2 separate regions of the Homo sapiens genome follow, and region 2 is linked to region 1. Evidence: fine-mapped expression QTL. A gene starts in region 1. The other region holds a variant in brackets. All regions are shown on one strand. Distances are from middle to middle. Region 1 holds the start of LINC02086 (long intergenic non-protein coding RNA 2086). Region 2 overlaps LINC02086 (long intergenic non-protein coding RNA 2086).

Evidence for each region.
Region 2: its variant is fine-mapped to the expression of LINC02086 in whole blood (TOPMed, PIP 0.97).

The regions. Positions count from the first base shown.
Region 1 is chr17:48,640,166-48,645,165 of GRCh38, forward strand. It overlaps LINC02086 (long intergenic non-protein coding RNA 2086), which reads left to right and starts at 2,462. Exons shown (of 8, transcript NR_189645.1): 1 at 2,462-5,000. The region is part of intron 1 of LINC03057 (long intergenic non-protein coding RNA 3057); the gene reads right to left. RefSeq lists enhancers at 1,061-2,059, 2,060-3,056.
Region 2 is chr17:48,693,379-48,698,378 of GRCh38, forward strand. All of the region lies in intron 5 of LINC02086 (long intergenic non-protein coding RNA 2086), which reads left to right. Among named protein-coding and RNA genes, the nearest start is that of PRAC1, 27 kb to the right of the region's middle. The variant C/G (reference allele first, on the strand shown) is at 1,973.

The DNA of each region.
Region 1 (5,000 bases):
GCCACAACACAAGAGGCTGGGCGTAATTAGGAGGTCCCCCAGGATAGTCAGGGGTCACATGCTGTTTATCTCTTACAAACAAGATTACTAAAATATTAGGGAGCAAATCCTTCCCCTTTAAGTTCAGCATTTGGTATTCCCCAGCCTCTAACCTTGGCTAAATCAGCCCCAAGTAGAGCTGGGTCCCTGAGGAAATGGAATAAGTGAGTCAATAAGGGACACAAAGGAACATTCTATTGCCCAGTCCCCATTTGCTTGACTTATAGGCAGCTTTAGTTAGGAGGCTGTTTCCAGATAGTCTTCCCTTCCAGGAGTTCTGGTATGGTTTTTAGTCCCTGGGAAGCTGCTTAAGCCTGATTTCCTTCCATTGCTGGTCCAACTGCTGGCCAGTCTAAGATCAGCTTTCCCCAGCAAAGCTCTTCCCACGTTCTCAGGCTCCCAGCTGCTGGGAAGGAAAGACTGACTCCCACTGGGAGCCCAGACCCTACAGGTAATGGTGGGGAGAGGACACTGCCACCGGAGTGTTTTTACAGGTGAAGGCTGGCCTGGCAAAATGGAGATGTCAGCCAAGAGAAAGGGTGAAGACCTACGTAAACTGACTATATTTGGCCTCGGCATTTCCCAGACACCAGCTCCTTTGATCTATCCAAATTGTAGTTGTTAACTTGGTGTCTGAGGAGTCTGAAACTCTCTGAAATTGTGGGATTTGGTGAGTACTACATACGCACATTTTTTTTCTGGGTAGAGGGGAATCAATATTGTTCATCAAAATTTAAATTATCATATCAGGGAGTGGCCCCAAAATGTTAAGAACCTCTCATCCACCATTCTTACACAACCAACCAAAAATGTAATGCAGAGGGAGGCATTGTAATATACTTGGGGATCTGACAAGACAAATTAAAAGGACAAACAATTTATTGTTCCACAAGGTTGAACAGATACTGTCACCTGGACTTCTTGGAACACCAGGAACCAGGTCACAGGTGCTGGGGACTCTTAGACTGAGACCAGTCAGGCCACAACACCCAATCACTACCTCCTCCATATTTGCCTGTGCAGACAAGGAGTATGCAAGGTCTCTGTGTCTCTAATTAAATTAATATGGAGCTTTTATCCACTGGGGCCTGGACCTTCCGCCATTTGTCACCTTGTCCAAAGCTATCTCATACCGAAAGAGAATTGAACGTTTCAGGAAACACTTCCCCTTTGCAAATGCCCTTCTCTTGGGGAATGGGTATAGTGTCCAAATCTCCAGCTCCCACCATTTCTAGCCAGCCCTGAGGAATTGTCTGAGACCCGGGAGCCCAGAGATCATCAGCGGGGGCCAACAGCCATGACCTTTGAGTTTTCTTGGCCGCTGGGCCACAGAAAGGGTGCAAGAGGCAGCTGGACAGGTAGACAGAAGTAGGCACAAAGAAAGGGGCCCTGGACGGTTGCCAGAGAAAAGACGGAGAATGACAAAGAGAGAAGTGAAATAGCTGGACTGGAGGCGGGAACTGGAGCGCAGCAGGCAGGTGGAGTGGCCAAAACCCGCGTGCTAAGAAGAGCCCACAGGGGCGGCAGGGGCGGCAGGGGCGGCAGAGGCGGCCAGGCGCGTCTCCGTTCCCCATCTTTACGGGGAGGTTAATGACCTCCTCAGCGCCCCCTCGTCCCAAACCACCCAATTACAACTCCTCAGGCTCCTTAATGATCTGATTAATTGGTTGGTTAGGGCGGATGGAGGTGCTTCTCTGCCGGGGACCTGGCGGGGTTTCGCTAGATCATTTGTTAATTGTGGGAAGGAAGGACGCATCCGGGGAGAGGAGATCCAGGGCTGGAAAAGTGGGTGAGCGGCGCTGGCGCAGGCGGCCAGGAGAGAGCAGATGAACCGTTCGTTAGGAGCAGCGAGGTAGTCGTGAGCGCTGAGATCCAGAGACTAGGACCCACTCCCTCTCTGAGCAGCAAATTGGGAAGAAGATGCTCACTCGGTAAGGGCGAGGGAGCCCGGCATGGCGCCCCACCACGGGCTCGGTCTATCTGCGCGCCAAGATCCCGCTTGGGGCGAGGCGTTGGGTCAGCGTTTAGAGCCACTCCCTGCGCTGGTGGCTGGACATAGCCTCCCTATCCCACCTCATCTTCCCCCATCCCCGACAGAGGAGGTTGTGAATCTACAGGCCCTTGACGTTGAGGCGTCGGAGGGCGCACCTTTGTAATTGCGGCCTCCCTTCGCCCCTTAAGTGCCGCTTCTGGGCGCCTAGGCTGGATATGAAAGCCCCGTTCCTAATCCTCTGCTCTGGTCCCCTCCTCTGGACTGCTGGGACTCTAAGCTAGGCCCTCCCCAGGTTCCATCACTGCGGCGCCAACCCGCGGCTGGGCTGTCCGCAAGAGGGAGTTGAAGGCGCGCGGAATCCCGAGGTGCAGCTGACCCTCCTCTCAACGCCGACTCTGCCGCTCCCGCCCGGCCACCTCCCTGTCGGGCAGACTTCCTGTTCTCCTGCTCACAGCAGGGAGGCAGTCGCCGAGCCGGTCAGCAGCGTGCACGGAGATCTTCACTCTGCGCCCAGCCCCGGGACACAGGTGCAGATCTCCAGCGGAGCACTGCGGAGTGCGCGCCGTCGAGCACTAGGGAATCCTAGACGGAGGACTTGGTCCATTCCACGCAGTCCCAGGCAGGTCCGCAGCGGAGGGACGCAGCGGTCTCCAACTCCTGGTCACGACTTCGGCGACCCTCCACCCCCTGAGAGACCTGGTCCCACGGAGCTGTCCCCCCAGGAGCCGCAGCGGGAATAGCAAAGCAAAGGGGACCACTCAGCCCCCAGGAGGAGCCCTGAAGCAAAAAGGTTGCTGCGGGGAGCCACGTTCCCTCTGGTTCACCTCGAAGCCCAGGAGCTCCGGTCCCTGGACCAAGGAGTGAACAGACCTGAGGAAGAGGTAAGAGGAGGTTTAACGAGTAAAAATTTGGACTCTCTCCTCTTATACTGCTTTAAAGCATGAGGAATTTGGGCCCTGACTTCTCTCTCCTTGAAGAAGTTTCTCGCGTTCTGGCCAGTCCTTGCGTGTCTGCACCCAGGGCCGGCAACAATTTAAGGAGGAACTTTACTGGGTGGTCGAGGCTTGAGAGTTCATAGTTACCTTTTAAAAAAATCATTACTATTACTTAATATCTAGGTTATTTTGGACTGAGCCCCCATCTTCGCTCCAGCCCAAATTCGGCCTTTAACAGTACTAGGGAGTGCTTCAAAAGAGGAGGGTCGTGGAGGAAGCGACTCAGACGGCCCCAAGAGGAGAGATGGGAAGGAGTGAGGGCTTTGGCCTTAATGATCTCTGCAAGTTAAAGGCCATTATTCCTATAACTACAGCTGGGGAAAGGGCAGAGGAGGTAAGGACGGAAAGTGGGCTGAGGGTGGCCACTTTGGCATCTTCTTGAGAAAGGAGACATTTGAATTCCCGGCCCAACTAAAAGCCCTGAGATGCTTGCCCTTTGCTTTACAGACAGTGATGGCAAAGAAATACTGCCACCAGGGTGTTTTTAAAGGTGAAGGTTGACCTGATAAGCACTGAGATCAGACAAAGGAAAAAAAAAGTAAAGCATTTGGTCTTTCAGTTTTCTGGCTAAATCTGGCATCATTTTCCAGACACAAACTTCTCTGATTAATCCAAATAGCTCTCAACCTGAAGTTCAAGGAATTTGAAATCCTCTGAAATTGTGGGATTTCACAGTTCTAAAAGGAAGTCAGCTGTCACTTTCTGAGAAGCCCTGGGAGGGGAAGGAAGCAAGAGGAGGTATATGAGGAAAGGGGGTGAGAGGCCCCAGATCTAGCTCTCTAGACATTTAGTGCTGGACCCCCAAGCTCTGAAACTCAAGCTGACCCCATCTACACATTGCCAAACTGAGTAGAAAGTTGCAAGGCAGTCAAGGAGATAAATTTTATTTACTGCTTTAAGGATGAGTTTGGGTGTCTAAGCAGATTATAAATCTGGGTGTTTTCAGTATTTGTTTCTTTCTTTCAACTATTACTGATTTTTGGCCCAGAGTAGTTTCTGGGGCCCTTGGGGCAGTTAGGCAAGAGAGGGACTCAGACCTCCAGTCCCTTGATCTTGCCTTTACTTGGTGAAGAGCCCAAGATTCTCTACTGGCAGGCAAGGTCAGAACCAAGTTGGCCCTAGGCCTTGCCCCAACCCCCCAGCCCTCAGGACTCCTTTCTCTGAGACCAGGCCTCTGGCCAAACTGCAGACTCCCTCCACACCCGGTCACTGGAATAATGATGGCATTTTTGATTTCTCCCATTTTTGAAAACTATAGAAGCCCCAAGGAGGAAGGAGGTACCACTGGATCTTGGGGTGCTGGTGGGGGATTCTGGAATCAAATATCCTCTAAGCCTGTGAGGACAAGGTCTACTAGGATGACTTGGTGTCAATTACAGCTCTGAGTGCTGCCTGGATAGGTCAAATATTCCCTCCTTTCCCTCCTCATTCCTTCCGTTCAAGCCCAGAAAATTCACAGATTTTCTGTGTGGAGAGAGAGAAAAAAAATGGGCAAAACCTGGGAGTAAAAGGGAGATGAGGGAGAAGAAAATGAGGGAGAGAAACCAATAGACTAAAACAATGAAACTCTCTAACCCAACAGCACTTTAAGCTTGACTTTTAATCTGGCCAGAAAAAAAAAGAAGTTGGAGGCAGGGTGGGTGGGATGTGAAGTTCCCAGCCCAACAGATCCTCCTGTTGTCACGGGCTCTGTGCGTTCCCAGCTGGTGAGAACCCTGTCTGTCCTGGGGGTGGGAGGGATGTCCTGGGTCTTTCAAGTTGCAGTGTGGGGAGTGAGGCTCTTTCTAAGGGTCTCTGAGGTCTCCCACAACACCTTGCTTGGACTAGCAAAACCTTTCTTTGCATTTCCTCTGGGGCACTGTGTATGTGTATCCCTGTGTAGGGTGGTGTTCTAAACCACCGCAGAAGGTGAGCAATTCTCCTCCCAGCGAGCCAAAGGCTATATGTTTGGGGTGGAGGAGGCTTCATCCCTT
Region 2 (5,000 bases), 53 kb after region 1:
TTCACTTATTTCTAGGGGGTTTGTTTGTTTGTTTTTGTAGACTCTTTGAGATTTTCTATATATATAATCACGTCATCTGCAAATAGGAAGAGTTTTGCCTCTTCATTGCCAATCTTTTATTTCCTTCTCTTATTGCACAGACTAGAGCTACCAGCACTATGTTGAATAAAATTGGTGCTTTATTCCCACTATTAGGGGCAAAGCATTCAGTCTTTTACCATTAAGTATAATGTTAGTGGGTTTTTCATAGTTGCTGCTTATCAAGTTAAGGACATTCCCCTCTATTCCTATTTTTTCTTACAGGTGTTTTTGTTTGTTTGTTTGGTTTTTGTTTTTTGAGACGAAATTTCGCTCTTGTGGCCCAGGCTGGAGTACAATGGCACGATCTTCACTCACTATAACCTCTGCCTCATGGGTTCAAGAGATTCTCCTGCCTCAGCCTCCTGAGTAGCTGGGATTACAGGCATGCGCCACCACACCCGGCTAATTTTGCATTTTTAGTAGAGATGGTGTTTCTCCATGTTGGTCAGGCTGGTCTCGAACTCCTGACCTCTGGTGATCTGCCGGCCTCAGCCTCCCAAAGTGCTGGGATTACATCACACCAAGTCAGGTTTTTTTTTTTTTTTAATTATTAAATGGGTGTTGAATTCCGTCAAATGTCTTTTCTTCATCATTGCTATGACTATATGGATTTTCCTCTTTATACTGTTAACATGGTGGATTACATTGATCAATTTTTGGATATTGAATCAGCCTTGCATCCCTGAAATGCAACTGTATAATTCTTTTTATATATTGCTGGAGTCCATTTGCTACTATTTTGTTAAGGATTTTTGCTTGTATATTCATGCAGGATATTGGTCTATAGTTTTCTTTTTGTTCTACTGTCCTCATCTGGTTTTGATAATATTAACCTTATAAAATTAATTGGAAAACATTTTCTCTCTTCTGTTCTCTGGAAGAGATTGTGAAGAATTAAATTCTTCTTTAAGTGGTAGAATTCTCCAGTGAAACCATCTGGATCAGGAAATATTGAGAGGGAGGGAGGATGGTTTTATTACAAATTCAATTTTCTTAATAGTTATAGGGCTATTCAAATTAAACTAATACCCTAAAATTAAACTAATTTAAACTAATACCCTAAAAAAAAAACCTCTACACATATAAACTCATACTGGATGAGTTAGGTAGTTTGTGTTTTGAGGGGAATTGGTTTATTTTATTTAAGTTGCCAAATTTATGCATGTAGAGATTTTTTGGAGGATATTAATTTCTTGGGGCTGCTGCAACAAATTAACACAACTTAATAACTTGAACAACAGAAATTTATTCTCTCACAGTTATGGAGGCCAGAAGTTCAAAATCAGCATCAATGGTCAAATCAAGGCATTGGCAGGACCACACACTTTTCAGAAGCTCTATAGAAGAATTCATTTTTTGCCTCTTCAAGTTTCTGGTGGCAACCAACATTCCTTGGCTTGTGGCCACATTGCTTCAATCTCTGCCTCCATGGTTGCATTCCCTTCTCTTTTGTCCACAACTCCCTCTGTTACTCTCTTATAAAGACATTTGTCATTGCACTTAAGGTCTACTAGGATAATCTCATCTCAAAATCCTTAATCGCATCTACAAACGCTCTTTTTCCATATAAGGTAATATTTACAGGTTCCAGGGATTAGGACCTAATTAACGCTTTGGAGGTCTACTGAGGCTGACTAATGGCCTCCAAACATAATTCTCTATTTCTTTCATTTTTTTTTTTTTTTTTTTGAGTCTCGCTCTGTCGCCCAGGCTGGAGTGCAGCGGCGCCATCTTGGCTCACTGCAAGCTCCGCCTCCCGGGTTCACGCCATTCTCCTGCCTCAGCCTCCCGAGTAGCCAGGACTACAGACGCCCGCCACCACGCCTGGCTAATTTTTTGTATTTTTAGTAGAGACGGGGTTTCACCGTGTTAGCCAGGATGGTCTTGATCT[C/G]CTGACCTCGTGATCCGCCAGCCTCTGCCTCCCAAAGTGCTGGGATTACAGGCATGAGCCACCGTGCCCGGTCATAATTCTCTATTTCATTTTATTTCCCTATTATTAAGTCCCACGGTGTTTCCCTATTATCCTTTTGATGCCTACAGGGTCCATGTGATATCTTTTCTTTCATTGCTAATGTATTTCTCCTCTTTTAAAATTTGTCAGTCTTGCTAGAGATTTATTGATCTTTTCAAATAATTAGCTCCTTGTTTCGTTGGTTTTCTCCTTTTCTTTTCAGTTTTCTGTTTCTTTTTTTATTTTCAATTTCATGGATTTCTGCCTTTTTTTTTTTTTTTTTTTTGGAGACAGGGTCTTTCTCTGCCGCCCAGGCTGGAGTGCAGTGGCATGATCATAGCTCACTGCAGCTTCCAGCTCCTCAGCTCAACTGAGCCTCCCACCTTAGCCTCCCAAGTAGCTGGAACCACAGTTGTGTACCACCATGATAGGTAAATTTTTAATTTTTAACGTTTTTCAGAAATAGGGTCTCATTATGTTGCCCAGGCTGCTCTCAAACTCCTGAGCTCAAGCAATTCTGCCACCTTGGTCTCCCAGAGTGTTGGGATTACAGGTGTGAGCCACCATGCTCAGCCCTGCTCTTATCTTATTATTTCCTTCCTTCTGTTGGCTTTGGATTTATATTTTTCCCAAGTTCTTGAGGTATGAGCTTAGATCATTGATTTGATAAAGACTTTTCTACTTTTCATTTATTTTCTTTTTTCCTTTCTTTCTTTTTGACACAGGATCTCGCTCTGTCACCCAGGCTGGAGTGCAGTGGCACAATCTCAGCTCACTGTAGCCTTGATCTCCCCAGCTCAAGTGATCCTCCCACCTCAGCCTCCTGAGTAACTGAGACCACAGGGACACGCCACCATACCTGGCTAATTTTTGTATTTGGGTTTGTTTGTTTGTTGTTGTTTTTTTGTGTGTGTGTTTTTGTACAGCTGGAGTTTCGCCATGTTGCCCAGGCTGCTCTCGAACTCCTGGGATCAAGCGATCTGTCCACCTTGGCCCCCCAAAATACTAGGATTACAGGCATGAGTTACCATACCTGGGCCTCTACTGTCCTAATATGTGCATTTAATGCTATACATTTTCTTCATCTGTGTCCCACAGATTTTGTTACATTATATTTTCATTTCACTCGCTTCAGTGTATTTTACAATTTCCCTTGGCCAGGTGCAGTGACTCACACCTGTAATATCAGCACTTTGGGAGGCAGAGGCGGGTGAATCACATGAGTGCAGGAGTTGGAGACCAACCTGGGCAACACAGGGAGACCCCATCTCTACAAAAAAATCCAAAAATTAGCCAAGCGTGGTAGTGTGATCTTGTAGTCCTAGCTACTCGGGAGGTTGAGGCTGCAGTGAGCTGTGATAGCGCCACTGCATTCCAGCCTAGGCAACAGAGCGAGAGCCCATCTCTAAAAATGAATAAATATATAAATGTATATTTTTATATGTATTATATAATAGTATAATATATTATAATAGTATAATATTATACTATTATATAATAGTAGTAGTATATATTATGTATTATACTATTATATAATATATAATACATGCAATACATATACATATATGTGTATTTTTATACATGTATTATATATACACATACAATATATAGATGTATATATAATATTGTATATATAAAATATTTTATATATACACATATATAATTTCTCTTGAGACTTCCCTTTTTCGTCCATGGAGTACTTAGAAGTGTGTTGTTTAGTTTCCAAGCATTTGGAAATTTTTCTGTTATCTTTTTGTTATTGATTTCTAGTTTGATTCCATTGTGGTCAGAGAACACACTTGGTATTAATTCAGTTGTTTTACATCTGTTTGTTTTATGGCCCAGGATATGGTCTATTTTGAAATGTGTTACCTGAGTAGTCGAAAAGAATGAACATTTTGCTGTTGTTGGGTGAAGTGTTCTATAAATATTCATTAGATCTTGTTGGTTGATGATTTTGTTGAACTCTTCTATATCCTTGTTGATTTTCTGTCTAGCTGTCGTATCAATTGTTAAGAAAGGAGGATTGAAGTCTTCAGCCCCAGTTGCCGATTTTTCTATCTCTCCTTTCAGTTCTATCAGTTTTGGCTTCATATGGACTGCAGTTCTGTTGTTTGGTGCATACACATTTAGGATGATTTGTTTTCTCACTAGATTGGCTCTTGTATCATTGTACAATGTCTCTGTCTCTAGAAAAGTTTCTTTGCTCTGAAGCCCACTTTATCTGACATATATACATGCACAATATATATATGTATAGCTACTCTCCTGCTTTCTTTTGTTTAATGTTTACATAACCTATCTTTCCTATCTTTTTTCATCTTTTTACTTCCAACCTACCTTTATTGCTATACTTACAATGACTTTATGCACCACATCTAGTTAGGTCATGTTTTTTAATCCACTCTATCAATTGCTTTTAAATAGATATCAATCTTTTGCATTTAGACCATTTACATTCAATATAACTATTGATATGTTAGGGAATAAGCCTGCTGTTTTATTTTTTGTTTTATGTTTTTCTCTCCTTTTTTTTTTCCTGAGATGGAGTCTTTGTCTATTTCCCAGGCTGGAACGCAGTGGCATGATCTCGGCTCACTGCAACCTCCGCCTCCCGGGTTCAAGTGATTCTTGTGCCTCAGCCTCCTGAGTAGCCTGGATCACAGGCACCTGCCACCACACCTGGCTAGTTTTTGTATTTTTAGTAGAGACGTGGTTTCAATGTTGACCAGGCTGGTCTTGAACTTCTGAGCTCAAGTGATCTGCCTGCCTCGGCCTCCCAAAGTTCTGGGATTATAGGCGGGAGCCACCGTGCCAGGCCCACTTTTCATTTTTCTATTTTCTTTTCCCTGCCTTCCTGTGGGCTACTTGAACATTTTCATTAGAATCATCTTTTTATTTATCTGTAGTATTTGGGGATATTTCTTTACATGTAACTTTTTTTTTTTTAGAGGCAGTCTCACTCTGT